Regions from separate parts of the Homo sapiens genome. Here region 1 is linked to region 2. Evidence: fine-mapped expression QTL. Tissue or cell type: whole blood. Region 2 holds a variant in brackets; the other region holds the start of a gene. All regions are shown on one strand. Distances are between the middles of the regions.

Evidence for each region. PIP is the estimated chance that this variant, and not a neighbour inherited with it, causes the effect.
Region 1: MAN2C1 starts here. The variant in region 2 is fine-mapped to the expression of MAN2C1 in whole blood (TOPMed, PIP above 0.99). The same link has a PIP of 0.9 or more in blood mononuclear cells.

What each region holds. Positions count from the first base shown.
Region 1 is chr15:75,364,676-75,371,046 of GRCh38, reverse strand. MAN2C1 (mannosidase alpha class 2C member 1) reads left to right here and starts at 2,440. Exons shown (of 26, transcript NM_006715.4): 1 at 2,440-2,564; 2 at 2,849-2,974; 3 at 3,413-3,536; 4 at 4,455-4,525. The coding sequence starts at 2,464. SIN3A (SIN3 transcription regulator family member A) reads left to right here. Exons shown (of 21, transcript NM_001145358.2): 21 at 1-1,668. RefSeq lists enhancers at 2,265-2,559, 2,244-2,563, 2,135-2,667 and a silencer at 2,694-2,773.
Region 2 is chr15:75,442,842-75,447,841 of GRCh38, reverse strand. The region is part of intron 1 of SIN3A (SIN3 transcription regulator family member A); the gene reads left to right. Among named protein-coding and RNA genes, the nearest start is that of SIN3A, 6.3 kb to the left of the region's middle. The variant A/G (reference allele first, on the strand shown) is at 2,896.

The sequences.
Region 1 (6,371 bases), 77 kb after region 2:
TTTACCAAAGGGAGTTACCATTGTAGTACTTTTGTGTAAAACTTGTCTTCCCCTTTGCCCCCAACTTTTTTTTTTTTTTTTTTGTAAATAAATAAAGCTTGGTTCTTACTTAAGGAATAAACTCTCAACCCACGTCCCTTGTCCTCACCAGAAAATACTGTGAAGCAGGGATTTTGACTTCAGTTCCTTATCCAGGGTAGAAACAGGATTTTGCTTAAAATACTTGTTACTTGTCCCAAATCAAAATATTCCAAAATCTTAGAATACTTAAGTCTTTTAGTACGTGTTTTTTTCCCTTGTTCAAATAATCTGAAAATATTTTATATTTGGGTAAGTTGTCAAGCTATGTAGTTTGTATTTCTATATATTTTTTCTTATTCACATTGGTGATGGATGGGGGTGAGCAACTTAAATACCAAACCAGTGTTTGAAAAAAAAGTGTGCATAAGGCATGTGGTATACCTTATAAATGGAGTTGGGAGGGAGAGAATTTGAAATGGGATACCTATTTTTTTAATTACATAAATTTAAACTAGCAGACATTTAAACATGAATGATTAGGATTTTTCTATGTGGTTAACCTGGACTTTCTGAACAAAGACCAACTGAGCCCCTCCCAGTACTCTGGTGGATTTTTCTTCAGCAACCATTACGCAAGTCTTAGTTGTAACCAGCAATGTTCTGTGTGTTTTATGTTTGCTTTTTAGTTAAAAATCACCACCACCACCAAAAAGAAAAACAAAATTTTTTGGCTCCTGGATTTTCAAAACACATGGTAGACCTCTCTGATTTTAGGCTTTTATTGTTTAAAGACAGTGTCTCGCTTTATGACCCACACTGGAGTGCAGTGCCACGATCATAGCTCACTGCAGGCTTGACCTCCCAGGCTCAAGCAGTCCTCCCACCTCGGCCTCCTGAGTAGCTGCATGCCACCACGCCCAGCTAATTTTTTAACTTTTTGTAGAGACAGGGTCTTGCTATGCTGCCCAGGTTGGTCTCAAACTCCTGGCCTCAAGCTGTCCTCCCACCTCGGCCTCGCAAAGTGCTGAGATTACAGGTGTGAGCCACCCTGGCCTGATTTTAGGCTTTTTTTGTACTGGGGAGAAGAGACTGTGAGCCAAAGTGTAGGGTGCCAAAAAGAGCTTTGTGGGATGAGATTTTAGGGCAAAGCTGGGGCAGTGTCTGACTTGGCGGTGGTCATGTGTACTGATTTAGGGGAAAGATCTTGAGGTTTTCTCAAATAATTCACCTATCCCCGTGTTCCCTCAAGAAAGGTCATGTTGACCTGGAACCATAGGGGAAATTGGTGGGGTGTGATCAGGGTCAGCCCCAGCTGTTGCTGCCCCTGCAGTGTTTTGTCCAGAGCACTTGCCTGCAGGTCAGGATAGGATTTCAAGGCCAGTTCAGGAGAAAGTCCCAACCCACCAGTGCAACCAACAAAAGAGTAAGTTTTACCTACAGCCTGGGTTTTCACAAGTAGCATTTTTATTCCTCCTGCTGTCTGACATCTGAGCTCCAAGCTCTAAACCCAACCTGTATTATATGCAGCAGCAGGTTATCTTTGTTTTAAATCACATTTGTTATTCTGTACTTAGTCACCTTTCCGTGTGATCTGCATTTGAAATGTTGTAAACTTGGTCAGTATTTCCATTAAAATATCAGGGCTAATCTTGTGTATTTTTTTTTGTTCCTAATGATTTTATAGACAAAGACTCTTGGCAACCCCAGGAGAAAAAAAATAAAGCTGTCAGTGGAGTACTAGGGATGAGAATGAAACTGGAGGTCTGTTTCTGGTATTATGGCTTCCCGGGACTCTACAGTCCTGTATGGTGAAATACATTTTTCCATTGGGATCGTCAATGCCATGACTGTTCTGCCACCTCAAACTCCAGAGTTTCTGGTGATGTGCAAGAGTTAGCAATATACATTCAGTAAAGCGTGTAATCGAGTAAGTCGTAGTAACTTGGGCGTAAAGCTCTACCACCCTGCTCACTAACACCCTGATCTCCGTCCGGTATGAAAACACCTATTCCGGGTAGTCTGGCTCCACGTTAAGCAAACACCACTTTCCGTGTTCACCGACAGCTAGAGCCAGAGGTCTCCCGGTTGCTGCTTCTGAGGCTGGGTCTGCAGCAGCTGAGGCTCCCGCCTGTCTTGCCGAATGGCCTAAGTCTCTGTCTTGAGACTTTCGAGAGTTCTAATCGTCAAATTTCCCATTTTATTTTGAGATTTTCCCTGCGGCCCACTATTTCGGACAACATAGGAGAGCCTCAAAAACAGTTTCTAGCTTCCAACTCGGCTCAAAGTTCAGACAGCAGCTGGGCTTCCGAGAGCCGCCGGTGTTCCAAGAAAAGCTGCCCGGGACTGGGAGGCGCCCTCTGGACGCCGGAACCTTTGGTTTCCTGCCGTGGAGCGGAACGGTAGCGCCAGGGGCCTTCCGGAAAGAGGAGCGAGAGCCCGGCGATGGCGGCTGCGCCGGCCTTGAAGCACTGGCGCACCACGCTGGAGCGGGTGGAGAAGTTCGTGTCGCCGCTCTACTTTACCGACTGTAACCTCCGCGGCAGGTGTGGCCCCTGGTCCCCCGCAGCCGGCCGACCGCAACCGTGCGCCTCAAGCTTTCCTTCCGGGGAGAAACCTAAGCTGCAGCCACCCGGGCCGCGGGACAAAGTGCCCGCCGCGGGCAGGGCAGGGGCCGGGGAGGAGGGGGTAGGGAATGGACTGTGCCGCGGAGCGGCCAGGCAGCCCTCTTGGCGGAGGATCCAGGGAAAGTGCGGCCCCACCGGCCAGCTGGCCCCCAGGCGGAAACGGGGCGGCCTCCAGCATGTGCCCACCGGCCCGTCCCACGCAGGCTTTTTGGGGCCAGCTGCCCTGTGGCTGTGCTCTCCAGCTTCCTGACGCCGGAGAGACTTCCCTACCAGGAGGCAGTCCAGCGGGACTTCCGCCCCGCGCAGGTCGGCGACAGCTTCGGACCCACGTAGGTAACGCCCAGCGGGTGGGCGGGGCCACAGGCCTAGGGGAAGTCCCAACCCAGCTCCCAGCCACACCTTCGTTGTCTGCCCTCTGCCGTAGACAACTACGTGGGATCGAGCAGCACCCTCTGCTGGGAGCAGCACCCTCTGCTGGGAACAGCTCTCTGGTCCCTGGGTCTTCAGGGGATGGTTTTCATTCCCACGTGGCCGCCTCTGGACATCCCTTAGGAAGGGCACCCTAGGGATCACGAACCTTTGACGCCTCTGCCTGTTTCCCTCATCTTGCTTCTCACCTTGTTGCTCCTTTCTTGTGACTCAAAGCTGAGTACCTTGTGACACTGCAGATGCTTGGAGAGTTTCAAGCCCCTGCCGACACTTTATCCAAGGAAGGATATCAGGATAGGACTTCTACCTCTAGGCCTATCACAACAGCTCTCTTGCAGATGGTGGACCTGCTGGTTCCGGGTGGAGCTGACCATCCCAGAGGCATGGGTGGGCCAGGAAGTTCACCTTTGCTGGGAAAGTGATGGAGAAGGTCTGGTGTGGCGTGATGGAGAACCTGTCCAGGTGAGGAACCCTGTCCTAGGGCCAGGTATGGCCACATTTCAGCCCTGAAATGACTACAGCCCTTCTTCTGTGGACTCTGGAGAAGCCACAGCTGAGTTGCTCTGCCCACAGGGTGGTATCAGGATTTCAGGACTAGGGAAGTTGCCACTTGGGCATCTGTGCAATTGGTCCTTAGTTTTTATTGTGTATAATACAAACTTATAGGAAAACATTTCAAACAGTTCTAGATAAAGTAATGGATCTCTCCTTATCACCCATCCCATTCCCCAGCTATAACCACTGTTAAGTGTCTTATTCATGCTCCACCCTTATCAGGTTTAGTCCTTATACTCCTATCTAGTAGGTCTTTATACCCATTTACAAATTAAGAAACAGATGTGTAGTTGACTCACTCAGGTTCACACAGCTTCTATTTCAAATTGGACTGACTCTCAATCTGGGGTTAAGACTGTTCTTCCTGGCTACAAGAAGGCAGAGACCATCCCTTCCTCCCTTCACTGGCTCAGCAAATATCTCCTGGTGTCCATTCTGGGCCATACCCTTAAGCACTAGGGTGTAGCAGGGAATGAGGCAAACCTGCCCCTGACTTCACGGAGTTTCTTTCCCGGTATTTATTTAGGGGTGCAGAGGCCACCAGAATCCACACTCAGGCTGCCTAACCCCTTCCCAGGGCCCTTCCCATAAGACCATGGGTTTGCCACTGGTAAACAGGGGCTATTTGACGGTCATGGTGCTGGCTGCCATGGGAGTTGGGGCATCTACTGCCAAGGGTCCCTGATTTGCCAATCTTGGCCCTGCTTGGGAGAGAGGACCCAGAGCTGGGAACCAGATGGAGGGGCCTGACTCCCCATGGCTTACACTTTACCTGAACTGTCCAAAAGCCTCAAGCCTTGTCTCTCTCACTCCCCTCCCTACTAGGGTTTAACCAAAGAGGGTGAGAAGACCAGCTATGTCCTGACTGACAGGCTGGGGGAAAGAGACCCCCGAAGGTGAGTCCCTGTGCCCTGGTTGACCAGTGCTGTCAGGGAGGGAGTACCAGTGAGCAAGGAGGAGCTGAGGCCCAGAGTGATCTCATAAGCCCGCCTCTGCTCTAGCACAATCATCCTCACATCTCATTGTTTGCTTTTAAAAGCATGATTTTTTCCTAACCATAAAAATAATGGGCTGGGTGCAGTGACCCACACTACCCTGGGAGGCTGAGTGGGAGGATCACCTGAGCCCAGGAGGATGAGGCTGCAGTGAGCCATGATCACACCGCTGCACTGCAGCCTGGGCAACAGAGTGAGACCTTGTCTCAAAAATAATAGCAATGTTTGCCTGTGGTAAATACAGGAAAGCACAAAGAAGTAAATAACTACCGTTATTCCACTCCCTAGAATAGAGATGAACATTATTAACATCTCAGCATTCATGTTCTTTTTTTTGAGACGAAGTCTCCCTCTGTCGCCGATGCTGGAGTACAGTAGCACGATCGCAGCTCACTGTACCTTCTGCCTCCCAGGTTCAAGCGATTCTCATGCCTCAGCTTCCCGAGTAGCAGGGATTACAGGTGTGTGCCACCACGTCCAGCTATTTTTTTTTTATTTTTGGTAGAGAAAGGGTTTCACCGTGTTGGCCAGGCTACTCTCAAATTCTTGACCTCAGGTTATCCGCCCCTCTCAGCTTCCCAAAATGCTGGAATTACAGGCGTGAGCCACCGCACCTGGCCCAGTATTCATGTTCTTGGTGTATCTTTCCGGCATAGTTTTTTTTGTTTTTTCGGGGGGGTTTTTTTGGATTTTTTTGAGACGGAGTTTCGCTTTTGTTACCCAGGCTGGAGTGCAATGGCACGATCTCGGCTCACTGCGACCGCCGCCTCCCAGGTTCAAGCAATTCTCCTGCCTCAGCCTCCCTACTAGCTGAGATTACAGGTGCCCACCACCATGCCCAGCTAATTTTTTGTATTTTTAGTAGAGACGGGGTTTGACTCTGTTGGCCAGGCTGGTCTCAAACTGCTGACCTCAGGCTATCCACTTGCCTGAGTCTCCCAAAGTGCTGGGATTACAGGAATGAGCCACCGTGCCCGGCTCATCCCGGTATAGTTTTTACTAGTTAAGATTGTATCCTGACTTCTTACATTCCATGTTATAACATGGACATTTTATGACACCATTAAAAACACTTCTTAGACATTATGAATGTATTTTATATAGATTGACACTGTTTCAGATGCTTTCAGACACTGGGAGTATGGTGGTGAATAAAATAGCCCTTGCCAACAAAGGGAGACAGATTCACTCATATAATTACAAAACTGAGGGCTCTGGAAGGAAATCCTGGGTACTCCACTGAGGAATTTGCTCTAGACTTAGCAGCGAAGTGGAGTCAGGAAGGCCTCCCTAAGGAAGTCGTGTTTGCTCTCTGAAGCCTAAGTATGGCATCACCACAGCCCAGCCTGTTCTCCAATGAATGGCCCGCCCATGTTGGCCGTGTTGGTTTTAGATCTTGGGTCTAAAAGTTTGAGCCTGGGAGATCCGAACATGATTTTAATATGCAAAGAGGGTTCCAAGACCAAGGCAGTGCTTTGCAAAGACAACTTTGGAAATATAAGACTAAACAGCAGCGTACTTTACATGGTTCCAAACTTTGCTACTTATTCTCTCTGACAGCAAGACATGGGATCCATCTGGTGTTTGTACCACAACCCTCCCACATGCACTCTTGTCACACTGTGGGATCCTCTGGGTAGTGGATCCTGGAAGCAGACAGGTTGGGCTCAGCTGGATGCCTCCTGGGTGCCCCTTCCCCAAGTCCCCGGAGTACTGTGCCAGTCCCTTAGCCTGAGGCTGTCTCCCC
Region 2 (5,000 bases):
TGTTTTCCCTACCCACTTTTTGTCTTGTATGCTTGTATGTTACCCATATTTCTCAGCATGACAGTGGACCCTTCATGAGTCTTCTTGGTGTCCTCCAGGGCTAGGCTTGCTGACATATGGGCTATTGGAGGATATGCAGGTCCACATCCTTTATTTGCAGTTCTGAAATGCAAGAGTTTTTGTTTTTTGGTAAGTCTAGTTCCACAACTAGTTTTGGGGTACAGCCTGACCTGGGCTATCCTGCATGATGCAGAAATGTGACTGCTTGATTATGGGGAGCTACTCAGCCCTAGCTGGGAGAGAGAGATGATACAGTATATGTACCATATTACCTTTCTAAAATCCAAACAATGCTGATGACTCTAACGGGGATCTCTCCCTCTACCATAGACTAATATGTTTAGTGGCCCACTCAAGGTCTCCACTCGATGTCTCCTCTTGGATAACTAAGAGACATTGTTGACTCTTCTGTGTCTTTTTCATATGTGGTCCATCAGTAAATTTTACTGCTTTATATTCAAAATACTATCCAGAATTAGACCACTTAGGATCTGCATCTCCACTGCCCTAGTCAGTGCCTGTGCATCTCTAGCTTGGATTCTATTCTCCTTGTTTTGTTACTGCGGCTCTTAAATGTGTTCTCAACATAGCAACCCAAGTGATTCTTTTGAAACCTAAGTCATACCGTGTCACTTCTCTGCTTAAAACCATCCAGTGGCTTTCCATTTCAGTCTGAGTATTAAACCTGAGTCCTTATTTAGATATGTCTGTAATGAGCTGGGCGCGGTGGCCCATGCCTGTAATACCAGCACTTTGGGAGGCTGAGGCAGGCGGATCACGAGGTCAGGAGATTGAGACCATCCTGGCTAACATGGTCTCCACTAAAAAAAATACAAAAGAGTTAGCCGGGCATGGTGGCACACGCACCTGTAGTCCCAGCTACTCGGGAGGTTGAGGCAGGAGAATGGTGTGAACCCGGGAGGTGGAGCTTGCAGTGAGCCAAGATCGTGCCACTGCACTCTAGCCTGGGCGACAGAGCGAGACTGTCTCAAAAGAAAAAAAAAAGGATATGTCTGTAATTTCACCATTTTGGGAGCTCAAGTGGGAGGATCGTTTGAGTCCAGGAGTTTGAGACCAGCTTGGGCATCATAACAAGACCCTGTCTCTATAAAAAAATTAAAAATTAGCCAAGCATGCTGGCGCGTGCCTGTAGTCCCAGTTACTTGAGAGGCTGAGGCAGGAGGATTGCTTGAGCTCAGGAGCTTGAGGCTGCAGTGAGCCATGACTGTGCCACTGCACCCCAGCCTTGACGACAAAATGAGACCCTGTGTCAAAAAATAAAAAAACACCTGTAAGAACAAATCTGATGTACCCTCTGCCTGCCACCCTTATCCTAGTACCTCTCTGACTACATTTCTGACTAGTCCTTCTTTCGTTTTTCTTCAGCTACCCAGCCTTCATGCTGTTTTGGAACATGTCAAGCACATGTGAGCCCTCACAAAGACATGAGGGTCTTTGCGGTTGCTGTCCCCTCTGCCTAGAAGGCTTCCTCCACTAATTTCTGCATGACTAGCTCCCTCACTTCCTTTACTCAGAAGTTACCTTATCAGTAGGTATTATCTGACCATTCTTATCTACAATTTCAAAAACTCTTCCTTGCCTTTTGTTCTTGATACCTGTCACTGCCTACTATTCTAAATATTATACTTTGTCTATTGTGTCATCTTTCACTAAAATATAAGCTTCTTGAGGGAAGAGATTTTTGTTTACCGTTGTATCTCCAGCTCCTAAAACACCTGGTGCATAGTATGTGCTCAGTAGATATTAGAGAATGTATACATGAATGAATGATTTGGTTTCCACCACAGACAAGACAAAGCAGTATGCTGAGCATGGTAGAGGATACATAGATGGTTAAAGATGTTATGTGCCCATGTTTGTGTGGGAGCAGAAGAGCTAATGTGATAAAAGCAGTGTGAGATGTGAGTGACACTTCCACCTGTCCTTTCAAGAACTATCTCAAGTTCTATTCTTTGTAATGCTCTATTTTCTTTTCTTTCTTTCTTTTTTTTTTTTTTTTTTCTTTTTTTTGAGACAAGGTCTCACTGTGTTGCCCAGGCTAGAGTGCAGTGGTACTATCTCGGCTCATTGCACACACACACATACACACACCCAGCTTCAAGTGATTCTCCTGCCTCAGCCTCCCGAGCAGCTGGGATTACAGGCATGCGCCACTACACCCAGCTATTTATTTATTTATTTATTTATTTTGAGACGGAGTTTTGCTCTGTCTCCCAGGCTGGAGTGCAGTGGTGCAATCTCGGCTTGGCACAATCTCAGCTCACTGCAACCTCCACCTCCTGGGTTCAAGTGATTCTTCTGCCTTAGCCTCCCGAGTAGCTGGGATTACAGGCACCCACCACCATGCCTGGCTAATTTTTTTTTTTTTTTTTTTTTTTTTGAGACAGTGTCTCGCTCTGTCGCCCAGGCTGGAGTACAGTAGCGCGATCTCAGCTCACTGCAATCTCCCCTTCCCAGGTTCAAGCAGTTCTCCTGTCTCAGCCTCCTGAGTAGCTGGGATCACAGGCGCCACCACCATGCCTGGCTAATTTTTTGTATTTTTAGTAGAGACAGGGTTTTACCACGTTGACCAGCCTTGTCTTGAACTCCTGGCCTCAGGCAATCCACCTGCCTTGGCCTCCCGAAGTGCTGGGATTACAGGCATGAGCCACTGCACCTGGCCTTATAGATATTTTGAAAGATTATATTTCTTATATTAAATAGAGATAGGGTCTTACCATGTTGCTCAGGCTGGTCTTCCTGGACTCAAGCAATCCACCTGCCTCAGACACCCAAAGTGCTGAGATTACAGGTGTTAGCCACCATGCCTGGCCT[A/G]ATACTTAATTTTTAAAAAACTTTTTCTTTGGAAATAATTTTAGACTTCAAAGAGAGTTGCAAAAATAATACAAATAATAGCCCTATAATCTTCACCTAGATTCCCCAAGTGCATCTTTTAAAACCACAATACAGTGATCAAATCAGAAAATCAACATTGATAACAATTATTAATACATTTTGAATTTAACTAAATTTCTGTTCATTTTCTACCTACAGTAGTAAGAAATGTCTGGGTAACATCAGTGTCACCGAAGTCTGTATTGCCCAGATTGGTCTCAAACTCCTGGGCTCAAGCAGTCTGCCCACCTCGGCCTCCCAAAGTGCTGGGATTACAGGCCTGAGCCACTGCACCTGGTCTGGACTCAATTTTAGTTTTTGAGTTTTGCTTTTTTTTTTTAAAGCAGTACTAACTACTTGTAAAGATGTATATTTCATGACTTTTATTTATTGGAGGTCTTCAAAACAGCAAAGAGAAAATTTATTTTTATTTTTAATTTTATTTTTGAGATGCGGTCTTGTTCCATCCCCAGGCTGGAGTGCAGTAGCGCGATCTTGGCTCACTGCAACCTCCGCCTCCTGGGTTCAACTGGTTCTCCTGCCTCAACCTCCCGAGTAGCTGGGATTACAGGTGTGTACCACCATACCCAGCTAATTTTTGTATTTTTAGTAGAAATGGGGTTTCACCATATTGGCCAGGCTGGCCTCAAACTTCTTATCTCTCGAAGTGCTGCGATTACAGGCATGAGTCACCATGCCCAGCCTGAAAATTTATTTTTTTTCCAAAGGAATAAACTCATTTTAGCTATTACCACTTGTACATCGAAACAATGTTGTGGAGTTTTACTGATCTTATTTTTCCTGTATATTGAAATGTTTTGGTATTTCATCATCCTAGGAATTATTTCATCATTACTCATCAATTCTCAAATATGCTAAAGAGGACTAAAATAATATGACAAAGGGAGAATTATAGAATTGCTTAAAAGGATATGCAGTAGTGAAATAAATCATTAGTTTTACACTTCAGTTTTTAGAGATGGGGCCTCGCTTTGTTGCCCAGGCCGAAGGGCAGTGGTATGATCATAGCTCTCTGCAGCCTCAAACTTCTGGGCTCAAGTGATCATCCCTCCTAAGCATCCTCGGTAGCTGGGACTATAGGTGTGCACCGCAGCCCTTCAGTTTTCTTATTGCTTTTCCCAAAACTTACAGCAACTTTTTTTTTCTTTTTGGATACAGGGTCTCACTCTGTCACCCAGGCTGGAGTGCAGTGGCGCAATCTCAGTTCACTGCAACCTTCGCCTCCCAGACTCAAGCAATCTCACCTCAGCCCTCCAAGTAGCTGGGACTACAGGCATGTGCCACCACACCTGGCTAATTTTTGTATTTTTTTTGTAGAGAGAACGTTTCGCCATGTTGTCTAGGCTAGTCTCGAACTCCTGGGCTCAAACAATCCACCCACCTTAGCCTCCCAAAGTGCTGGGATTCCAGGCATGAGCCAGCATGCCCAGCCTACAGCATCTTTCAAGAAAGTATAAAAGAAGTTGGGAGATACCATCTTAAACATTATGTAAGATGTTAACATTTGGAGAATCTAGGTGAAGGAGTACATGGTAATTTTTATACTATTTTTCAACTTTTAAGCTTTCATTGGACATATTTAAAAATCCATAGTTTTTCATCTTCCTCCTATAATGGCAAAGAGAAGAAAACTGACTACAGAAGACATTTCAGAGGAACTAGTAGATGAATGCTGTGTGACAGTAGTACTCTAGACTGTTAGGATGACGGTAAAGTTATATAAACCAAGTTGTAAAATAAGAGTCTTCAGCCAGGCATGGTGGCGTGCACCTGTAATCCTAGCATCTCGGGAGGCTGAGATGGGAGGATCACTTGAGCCCAGTACTTCAAAACCAGGCTGGGCAACATAGCAAGATTCTGTCTCCACCCATATACATATGTGACTGTACCCTAGATGAGTTTAGAATGTGATTTTTTTTTTTTTTTTTTTTTTGAGACAGAGTTTTGCTCTTATTGCCCAGGCTAGAGTGCCATGGCACAATCTCGGCTCACCGCAACCTCCGCCTCCTGGGTTCAAGGGATTC